Linked DNA regions of Homo sapiens: region 2 is linked to region 1. A link means that fine-mapping ties the variant in region 1 to the plasma level of a protein whose gene starts in the linked region. Region 1 holds a variant in brackets. A gene starts in the other region. All regions are shown on their forward strands.

Region 1 (5,367 bases):
GAGCAGGAGGAAGTGTAGGGGAGGTGCTACACACTTTTAAGATAGCACTAGGGGGATGGTGCTAAACCATTAAACCACCCCCATGATCTGATCACCTCCCACCAGGCCCCTTCTCCAACACTGGGGATTACAAATTGACATGAGATTTGGACGAAGACACAAATCCAAACCATATTCTGTCCCTGGCCTATCCCAAACTTTGTGTCCTTCTCACATTGCAAAATACAATTATCCCATCTCAACAGTCCCCCAAGTTTTAACTCATTTCAGCATTAACTCGAAAGTCCAGTCCAAAGTCTCATCTGAGACAAGACAAGTCCCTTCCACCCATGAGCCTGTAAAATCAAAAACAAGTTAGTTACTTCCAAAATACAATAGGGGTATAGGCATTGGATAATTACTCCCTTTCCAGAAGGGAAAAATTGGCCAAAGCAAAGGAGCTATAGGCCCTATGCAGGTCCAAAACCCAGCAGGGCAGTCATTAAATCTTAAAGCTCTGAAATAATCTCCTTTGACTCTGTGTCTCACATCCAGACCACACTGGTGAAAGGGCTGGGCTCCCAAGGCCTTGGGCAGTTCTGTCCCTGTGGCTCTGCAGGGCTCAGCTCCCATGGCTGTTCTCAAGGGTGTTGAGTGCCTGTGGCTTTTCCAGGTGCACAGTGCAAGCTGTTGGTGGATCTACCATTCTGGGGTCTGGAGGATGGTGGTCTTCGTCTCACAGCCCCACTAGGCAGTGCCCCACTGGAAACTCTGCATGGGGGTTTCAACCCCACATTTCCCTTCTGCACTACCCTAGTAGAGGTTCTCCATGAGGGCTCCACTCCTGCAGCAGACTTCTGCCTAGACATTCGGCCATTTCCATACATCTTCTGAAATCTAGGCAGAGACTCCCAAGCCTTAACTCTTGTCCTCTGCACACCCACAGGCTTAATGCCATGTGGAGGCCACCAATACTTGCAGCTTGCACCCTCTGGAGCAGCTGCCTGAGGCATATCTGGAGCTTGAGCCGCCAGGACACAGGGAGCACTGTCCCGAGGTTGTGCAGGGCAGTGGGGCTCTGGGTCCAGACCACAAAACCATTCTTCTATCCTAGGCCTCTGGGCCTGTGAAGGGAGAGGCTGCCATGAAGTTTGCTGAAATGCCTTCCAGGCATTTTCCCCATTGTCTCAGCTATTAACATTCAGTTCCTCTTTACTTACGCAAATTTCTGCAGCTGGTTTGAATTCCTCTTCTGAAATTTTTTTTTTCTCTACCACATGGCCAGGCTGCAAATTTTCCAAACTTTTATGCTCTGCTTCCCTTTTAAATAAAAGTTCTAGTTTTAGATCATTTATTTCCTTATGCATGTGACTGTAGGTTCTTACAAGCAGCCAAGTCACATCTTGAATGTTTTGCTGCTTAGAAATTTCTCCCTCAAGATACCCTAAATCATCTCTCTCAAGTTCAAGTTCCACAAATGTCTAGAGCAGGGGCATAATGCTGCCAGTCTCTTTGCTAACACATAGGAAGAGTAACCTTACCCCAGTTTCCAATAAGCTCCATCTGAGAGGTCTCCATCTGAGACTTCCTCAGCCTGGACTTCATTGTCCATATCACTATCAGCATTTTGGCCACAACAATTCAACAAGTTTCTAGGAAGCTCCAAACTTTCCCTCATTTTCCTGTCTTCTTCTGAGCCCTCCAAACTCTTCCAACCTCTGCCTATTACCCAGTTTCAAAGTCATTTCCACATTTTCAAGTACCTTTATAGCAATGCTCCACTTCTCTGGTACCAATTTTTTTTATTAGTCCATTCTCACACTGCTATAAAGAAGTACCTGAAACTGGGTAATGTATAAAGAAAGGATGTTTCATTGTCTCACAGTTCTGTAGGCTGTATAGGCTTCTGCTTCTGTCAAGGCCTCAGGAAACTTACAATCACAGCAGAAGGCAAAGGGGAAGCAAGCACATCTTACATAGTGGGAGCAAGAGGAAGGAGGGGTGCCACACACTTTTAAAACAGCACTAGAGGGATGGTGCTAAACCATTAAACTGTTCCTATGATCCAGTCACCTCCCACCAGGCCCCTCCTCCAACACTGGCAATTCCAGTTCAACATGAGATTTGGGTGGGGACACAACTCCAAACCGCAGCACTTGCACATATACCCCTGAACCTAAAATAAAAGTTTAAAAAATAATAATAAAGAAAGAAATCTACACACACACACACACACACACACACACACAGAGAGAGAGAGAGAGAGAGAAAGAGAGAGAGAGAGAGAGAGAAAGAGAGAGAAAGGCAAGGTCACAGCTAAAAAAAAAAAAAAAATCCCTGAGCTACAGAATTCAGAGAGCTTCCAGGCTGCTGAACTCATGGAGGTGCTGGGAGGGTGGTGTGCCCAGAGAAGGCATGGAAGTTCTGCACCCCTTTCCCCATACCTTGCCTGTATTTGTCTGTTCTCATGCTGCTAATAAAGGCATATCTGAGACTGCATAATTTGTAAAGGAAAGAGGTTTAATGGACTCATAGTTCTACATGGCTGGGGAGGCCTCACAATCATGGCAGAAGAGCAAGGAACATCTTACATGGTGGCAGGCAAGAATAGGACATGTGCAGGGGAACTCCTCCTTATAAAACCATCAGATCTCATGAGACTTATTCACTATTAAGAGGATAGCATGGGAAAGACCCACCCTTATGATTCAGTTACCTCCCACAACATGTGGGAATTGTGGGAGTCACAATTCAAGATGAGATTTGAGTAGGGACACAGCCAAGACATGTCATTGCCCTGTGCATCTCTCCCATCTGGCTGTTCCTGAATTGCATCGTTTTATGATAAACCCATAACTTAGTAACTTTTCTCTTTGCTTTCTGTGAACTATTCTAGCAAATTAGTGAACATGAGGAGGAGGTCGTGGGAACCTCCAATTTGTAACCAAGTCAGACAGAAGTTGTGGGTGACCTGGGGACCCACCACTTATGATTGGGCTCTGAAGTGGGGATGGTCTTGTAGGACTGAGCCATTAACTTGTTCTAACTCCAGGCAATTAGTGTCAGAATTGAGTTAAATTGTAGGACACCCAGCTGGTGTTGGAAAATTGTTCAGTGTGGGGGAAAAACCCACACATCTGGTGTCAGAAGCGAAATGTGTTGTGAATAGAGGAAAACAGTGA[G/T]TGCTTCTTATATGCCTCTGAATGCTGGCATTTGACAGAGACCCTAACCTCATCTACCCCAGAAGCTGTAACAGTTCAGGACTCATATTTAGCGTAAATAGGGAGATATTTTGATTTCCTCTGAAAGAAAACTACTAGCTAGAAAAGGGACAGGCTGGGTGCAGTGGCTCATGCCTATAATCCCAGCACTTTGGGAGGCCAAGCCCAGGAGTTCAAGACCAGCCATGGCAACATGGCAAAACTGCTGTCTCTACAAAAAATAAGAAATTCACTGGGTGTGGTGGTACACACCTGTAGTCCCAGCTACTTGGGAAGCTGAGTTGGGAGGATTGCTTGAGCCCAGGAGGTCAAGACTGTAGTGAGCTATGATCATGCCCATAAATAGGCACTGCATTCCAGCCTAGGTGACAGAGTGAGACCCTGTCTCAAATAAATAAATAAATACAATACAATACAATACAATACAATACAATACAATACAATACAATACAATACAATAAAATACAATACAATAGAAAAGAGAGGGCATAAATGTGGAGAGTCCTCTGACCTAGTCTTAGAAAACAAGGCCATGAAGGTAGGAACTGTGTCTCTCTCAAGTTCATCGTGCAACCCTTCACAGAGCTCCACATGCAATATGGGGACTTACGAGTGTACTTTGAGGTTGTTCTTGCTGGGCATGTCACTATATCACATGCTTCCCTGACCTCAGTTCCTGCTGCCAAGCAGCCACAGATGCACCTGCATCAGTTTTCTCTGTCTCTACTGGATCGTTTTCTTTCCCATACAAGTTTGCTATAGTTTCTCCTGCCTTAAAAAAAGAAAATGTTTAATCTCTCTTGACTCCATGCCCCTGTCCTGTTTCTTCTTTTCTTTCTTTTTTTTTTTTTTTTACCTTGAGTCTTGCTCTATCACCCAGGCTGGAGTGCAGTGGCACGATCTCGGCTCACTGCAGCCTCTGCCCCCTGGGTTCCAGCGATTCTCCCGCCTCAGCCTCCTGAGTAGCTGGGATTACAGGCCCATGCCACCATGCCTGGCTAACTTTTGTATTTTTAGTAGAGACGGGGTTTTGCCATGTTGCCCAGGCTGGTCTCGAACTCCTGACCTCAGGTGATTCGCCCGCCTTGGCCTCCTAAAGTGCTGGGATTACAGATGTGAGCCACCATGCCGGGCCTCTTCCTTTCTTTTCACAACAAAATTTCATGAAAGTGGTGTGTATTCTCACTGTCCTTTCATTTCTGTCCTGCCTTTCTCTCTTACCATCCCTCTGGGCAGATGGTCAGGGTAAAACCATTGGCCAATATCCAGGTGGTCTTGATGTTGCTCAATCCAATGGTTAACTCTCAGTCCTCTTCTTAGTTGACCTGTAAGTAGCTGATTGGACTCAGGTCGATGCTCTTTCCACCTAGAAATAGAGAGGGGGATGAATTTCAGGAGGGATGTTTTTGAGTGGCCAAGAGGAAATCAAATCTAGAGCCCAAGGGGAGAGGTTGGCCTTAGGACACAGACAGTTCATCCCTTGTCACAGGGTAGATGGCAGACACAGTGTGAGGATAGATGTCACAGTTGGACCTTGGGAAGTTCTGTTTTCAGTGCTTTGACCTTTCTCTTGGAAATAGGAGTGAAGGGCATTAGCTGAGAGTGAGAATGGGGCAGAGGTGTTGGAGATTTGAGAGAGAGAGAGGAGGTATAAAGTAAGTGATCTGGCCGGGCATGGTGGCTCATGCCTGTAATCTCAGGACTTTGGGAGGCCAAGGCAGGTGGATCACCTGAGATCAAGAGTTTGAGACCAGCCTGACCAACATGGTGAAACCCCATCTCTACTAAAAATACAAAATTAGCCAGGCATGATAGTGCATACCTGTAATCCCAGCTACTTGGAGGGCTGAGGCAGGAGAATCACTTGAACCTGAGAGGTGGAGGTTGCAGTGAGCCAAGATCACACCATTGAACTCCAGCCTGGGCAACAAGAGCGAAACTCTGTCTCAAAAAAATTTTTAAATAAAATAAAATAAGTGATATTGAAAATTGGATAAGAGACATGATGCTGCCAGGTGGCATTAAGGGCCAGTTGAGTTAGTGACTATCAATTTAATGTAAGACAGATCAACACATATATTATTTATTTTTTGCAGATGACAAATTTTCCCAAATTCAGTGGTCTAGAACAGCATATATTTATTATCTTACCATTTCGGTGCATAGG
Region 2 (5,367 bases), not on the chromosome of region 1:
CAGGCTGGAGTGCAGTGGCATGATCACGGCTCACTGTAGCCTCAACCTCCCAGGCTCATGCGATCCTCCCACCTTAGCCTCCCAAGTAACTGGGACCACAGGCACACACCACCGTGCCCAGCTAATTTTTATTTTTTATTTTTTATTTTTTTTGAGATGGAGTTTCGCTCTTGTTGCCCAGGCTGGAGTGCAATTGTGCGATCTCGGCCCACTGCAACCTCCGCCTTCCAGGTTCAAGTGATTCTCCTGCCTCAGCCTCTGGAGTAGCTGGGATTACAGGCATGCACCACCACGCCCGCCTAATTTTGTATTTTTAGTAGAGACGGGGTTTCTCCATGTTGCTCAGGCTGATCTCGAACTCCAGAGCTCAGGTGATCTGCCCACCTCAGCCTCCCAAAGTGCTGGGATTACAGGCGTGAGTCACTGTGCCCGGCCCAATTTTTAATTTTTTGTAGAAATGGAAGTCTCACTAGGTAGCCCAGGGTCTTCACCTCCTGGATTCAAGTGATCCTCCTGCTTCAGTCTCCTGAAGTGTTGGGATTACATGTAACAGTCACTTCATTCACCCTGAATCATTTATGTAGGGGACAAAAATCACCGTCTCTCCAAGGACAGAACTTCTTTTTTGTTTTGTTTTGTTTTGTTTTGTTGAGATGGAGTCTTGTTCTGTCACCCAGGCTGGAGTGCAGTGGCGCGATCTCTGCTCACTGCAACTTCTGCCTCCCGGGTTCCAGCCATTCTCCTGCCTCAGCCTCCCCAGTAGCTGGGATTACAGGCGCGCACCACCATGCCCAGCTAAGTTTTGTATTTTTAGTAGAGAAGGAGTTTCACTGGCCGAGCGTGGTGGCTCACACCTGTAATCCCAGCTACTAGGGAGGCTGAGGCAGGAGAATTGCTTGAACCTGGTAGACGGAGGTTGCAGTGAGCCGAGATCGCGCCATTGCACTCCAGCCTGGGCAACAAGAGCGAAACTCCGTCCACCCCAGCCAAAAAAAGAAGTGGTTTTGCCATGTTGGCCAGGCTGGTCTCTAACTTTTGACCTCATGATCCACCAGCCTCAGCCTCCCAAAGTGCTGGGATTACAGGCGTGAGCCACCGCGCCCGGCCTGGTCTCAAACTTTTGACCTCGTGATCCACCAGCCTCAGCCTCCCAAAGTGCTGGGATTATAGGCGTGAGCCACGGCGCCTGGCCGCAAAAATGGAACTTCTGCATCACAGGTGACTAACGGTGCCAGGCACACAGTAGGTGTTCAATAAATCACTTTGGACTAAAAGAACACAGAGGCCAAGGGGAAGTGAAGAAACGACTCACAGGTCAGTTTTATTGGGTGCCTAGTGCAGGGGTCAGTACACTACGGCCCTCGGATCAGCTCTGGCCCTCTGCCTGTTTTTGTAAATAAAGTTTTATTGGGTGCCTAGTGCAGGGGTCAGTACACTACGGCCCTGGGATAAGCTCTGGCCCACTGCCTGTTTTTGTAAATAAAGTTTTATGGGCACAGAGCCATGCCCATGGTTTTACATATTGTCTCTGGCTACTTTCACTCTGCGATGGCAGAGCAGAGTCATTGCCGCAGAGACTGTGGCCTGCAATGCTGAAAATATTTACTCTCTGGCCCTTTACAGAAAAAGTTTGCCAAACCCTGAGCTAGTGTGTGCTGGGCCCTGTGCCAAGCCCTTTGTGTGTGCTCACTCAGTTAACCCTCCCACAGCCTTAAGGGTGGGGGCAGGGGGGTGGGGGGGAATAAGGCTCCGAGAGGTTGAGAAACAGACCCAGGGTCACACAGCTTGGAGATGGGTGAGCTGGGAATCAGACAGACCCGGGACCCCTGATATTCTTTAGGATCTTAGCTTTGTTAACCTTTGCTAATTTATCTTATTGTCTTAAATGCTAAAATGAATACACATTCATTGTAAAAAGGGAGGAATAAAGAAAAGGTGTTGACGGCCTTCTTCAGCCTGGGGTACATCCTGCCGTATCTTTCTCCACAGCTCATCCGGGGCTACTTTCCTTTAAATCTACAGCCATTCAGCAAACATCGGCAGAGGAGAACCGTTTTATAAGAAAACTAAGAAGTTTGGAAGAATCTTTCCTTCCTGCCCACCCTGGACCCCCATGAGTAGGTGTGCTGGGGCTGGTCTGCAGTGTTCTCACGGGAAACCAGGAAGCTGGGCCCAAGGCCTACATGTTGGGGAAGACAGGTCCTGCCTGTCTCCTGCTGTGGCTCCCCAGTGCTCTGAGGACAAAGCCTGAGCTCTCCCTGATTCTCCACCGTCCCTCTCACTCACTCTGGTCGTCTGGTCGCTGGGCCTTTAGTGAGTGTGCCATGGGGGCCCTGGGGCCGATTAAATTCCAGCCCCGGGGACCAGGCTCAGCTCCCAGCCAGGGCACAGACAGATCAGCACCTGCGGTTGTCTCCACCCCAACCCCCGGCCTTTGCAGGCACAGCGCCCTCCACCAGATACTCCGGCAAAGGAGGCCTGGGGACCCTGCGAGCGGGGCCGGGGGTGCAGGGAGCTGTCAGCTCCTCGCAGCGGCCTCCCCAGGACCCCCCTATCCCCTCGCTCGCCCTGAAATGTGTGTCCCTCTCGGCGTCTGGGCTCTCGAGAAAGGCCTTTGCTTGTCTGACTTCGCGAGGGTCCCGGCTCTGGCCCAGGAGCTGGGGAGGGGCGGGACTTGGTGACAGCCGGGTCCCAGCACCGCGCCCAGACCTAGGCCCTTCTCAGGGGTGCCCCGGGGCGGGGCGCGCGGGGCGGGGGGCGGCGGCGGCGCAGCCGGCAGGAGGCGCAGCGCCCGCTCGCAGCGCGGGGAGGTGGGAGGGGAGCGGGGCGGGGAGCGGGGCGGGCGGGAGGGAGAGGGGAGCGCGCCGGAGACGCGCGCGCCCAGCCCACCCCCCGCGCCCGCCGCCGCCCGGACAATAAACAGCAGCTTTGCGCGGGGCGATGCCCGAGCCGGTGCCGCCGCCCCCGCGCCGCGCAGCCCCGGCCGCCAGGCCTTAGCCCGCCCCGGCCCCCGCCAGGCCGCGTCCCCCTCCCCTCCCCTCCCCCGCGCGCCACCCGCGCCCGCCCCCGCCCGGCACCGCGGACCCACCCGGACCTCGGCGGGGAGATGGAGTGAGTAGGCGCGCTCGGGCCGCGGGGCTGGGGGCCCGGAGCTCCGGGAGCCGGGGAGGGGGGAGGCCCCCTCTCTCGCGCCCCATTGGGGGCGTCGCTGCCCCCGCGAGGAGCAGGAGGCGGCGCGGGGCTGCTGGGGCCGCAGCGCAGCCGGGAAGAGACTCGGGCTGGGCCGCGCCTGCCGGGAGGCCTCCCCGCTCCCGGACCCCGGCTGCCCACCCACCGGCGCGTGGGGACCCGGGCAGCGGCGGCTCGGGCCAGTCCAGGACGCGGGGAGGGGGAGGCTCGCGTCTCCGCCCGCGCCCCGCCCGCGTCTCCAGGGCGAGCCTCGGCTCTCGGCCACCTGTGGGTGGCCCCGGGGAGATGGAGCGACCCCTCCCCAGATTGCACCGGTCCGGCCTCGCGCTCACGCACCCTTCCCCCGCCCCAGTCTGAGCGCACGGCTCCTGGCGCCCTGGACGCGCGCGCGGGCCGGTGCCCCCCACCCCCGCCCTTCCCAAGGGCCTCCAGGGGTGTCCTGAGCCCCCCGCCACTGCGCAGGTCCCGAGTTACCGCTGGAGGGAGAGGGGCTGCCCTCGGCTTCCCGGGTCTCTGGGGTGTGTGAGAAGGGAGAGGAACCGGCGTTTTCCAGCGGGGCGCCTGGGTGGGATACCCTCTCGGGGAAGTGTCTCGGAGCTGGGGCTCCACTGGTGTAGCTACAGGAGTGGGCTGGCCCTGGGCTGGGATCCCTGGACCCCCGCATGGCTGCGCCTGTGTGTGTGGGGGGGGGGTGGCCAGTGGAGGCACCGAGCGAGGGCGCGTGGTCATTTCGGACACCGGTCCCCTCCTCCCGGTGCTCGGGTGCCCCTCTGCCCCTCACTCCCACAGGTGGGCACTGCACGGGCAGGGGTCAGGAGGCTCCTCCTGGGGTCACCCACCTGCCCACTTCAGGACAGGGGAGCCAGCTGCCCTGCTGAGGCCCGGGTCCCCACCCCAGCCCGAGGACCGAAGACCGGATCTGGAGGCCGCCTGTGGCCCCCTGCCCTTCCCACTGGGCGTGTTTTCTAAGCCGCCAACTTTCCCCGGGGATTCACCCGTGACCCGCCACGCCCGCGGCTGGGTGGGGGCCGCTGCCTCCCTCCCTCCCTGGGAAAGCGAGACACCCAGTGTCCTCTGCTTTTGAAAACCCAGACAAAGGCCTGACCCCTCTCCCCGTCACCCCGCCCCGGGAGCTCAGCCAGGGGCTCAGGGGAGCCAGGGCCCAGACTTGCCTGCTCCACACCCCCACCCCCCAGCCTTGTTTATCTGCCCTGCTCGCCAGGCCCCGGAGGAGCCTCTGGGCCTCTGACAGCCAGGCCTGGGCAGGGTGTGGCTGTGGGGAGGGGGCTGCCTAGGAGGACGACGGAGATCTCCCTCCCAGAGGAGGGGTGTCAGCGAACACTCCGGGTCGGGCCCATTGTTTCCTTCCTGCCACCCCTTCCTTTCCCACGGGGGATACTGAGGCCCAGAGAGGAGCTGCTGCCCCCCCCCCACCCCCCCTCCATCACACAGCACCTGGGGCCGGGGGGCCTCGGTGCCTCCTGCTCTGCTCCACGGTTTCTCCGTCCTGGGTCAGAGGGTGGCCCACAGGTCCCCCATTGGGTCATCATTGCTTTTGGGGATGCAGACATGGGACAGGCACCCAGTGTTAACCGGCTGCTGTGAGCCGCCATTCGAGGACGACTCTCTCCCCGGTTCCCGGGCTGACAATGGGTGGGGACAGGCCCATCTGGTGCCGCCCGGCCTTGGACACCTGCCCCCTCGTTCTTCTCCCCGGCGGGCTTCAGGCACGAAGGCCCCGTCCGCTAGAACGTGATCGCTTGCCTCCTCCCGTTTCCACAGATTTTCCAGTCGAAGACACGGGAGCTGGCTGTGGTTTGTGGTGGTGCCCGTCTCGCTGGAAAGTTTCACAAATGAATTTAAGAATTTAAAGAATTTTAAATGTCATTCAAGAACAGGTTATTTTTTGTTAATGTGAGGATTTAAGGAGAACTAGCGGGTTGCTAACCACAGGGCCGATGCTGCCAAGGTGAGGAGAACGTCCAGGAAGGAGCTGGGGAGAATCTCTGCTTCGGAGAGAATCTCTGTGCTCTGGGAGGGTTTGTGTGGCCCCTGCGTGACACATGGTCTGGCTGGTAAAATAAAGATATTTTGGCCTGGAGCAGCCATTCTCCAGCACCCACAGCCCTGTCCTGGGTACAGGCAAGGCTCAAACCCCCGGGATAGGGAGGAGAACAG

Alleles and levels. Alleles are on the strand shown, and positions count from the first base shown. The strength of an association depends on the size of the effect and on how common the allele is.
For the plasma level of the protein whose gene starts at base 2,895 in region 2, allele G in region 1 goes with a lower level than allele T (weak association).

Evidence for each region. A credible set is the group of variants that fine-mapping cannot tell apart. PIP is the posterior inclusion probability: the model's chance that the variant is causal. Protein levels are from antibody-based Olink assays in UK Biobank. Linkage for the fine-mapping came from a reference panel and not from the study's own genotypes, which makes the PIPs less certain.
Region 2: PALM starts here. The variant in region 1 is the best candidate, but not a certain one, in a credible set for the plasma level of the PALM protein (UK Biobank, PIP 0.59).

What each region holds. Positions count from the first base shown.
Region 1 is chr1:223,673,517-223,678,883 of GRCh38, forward strand. It overlaps LOC105373281 (a long non-coding RNA gene), which reads right to left. Exons shown (of 3, transcript XR_949164.2): 3 at 4,302-4,566. Among named protein-coding and RNA genes, the nearest start is that of CAPN8, 10 kb to the left of the region's middle. The variant G/T (reference allele first, on the strand shown) is at 3,162.
Region 2 is chr19:706,041-711,407 of GRCh38, forward strand. It overlaps PALM (paralemmin), which reads left to right and starts at 2,895. Exons shown (of 9, transcript NM_002579.3): 1 at 2,895-3,111. The coding sequence starts at 3,107. RefSeq lists an enhancer at 1,892-2,452 and a silencer at 1,905-2,141.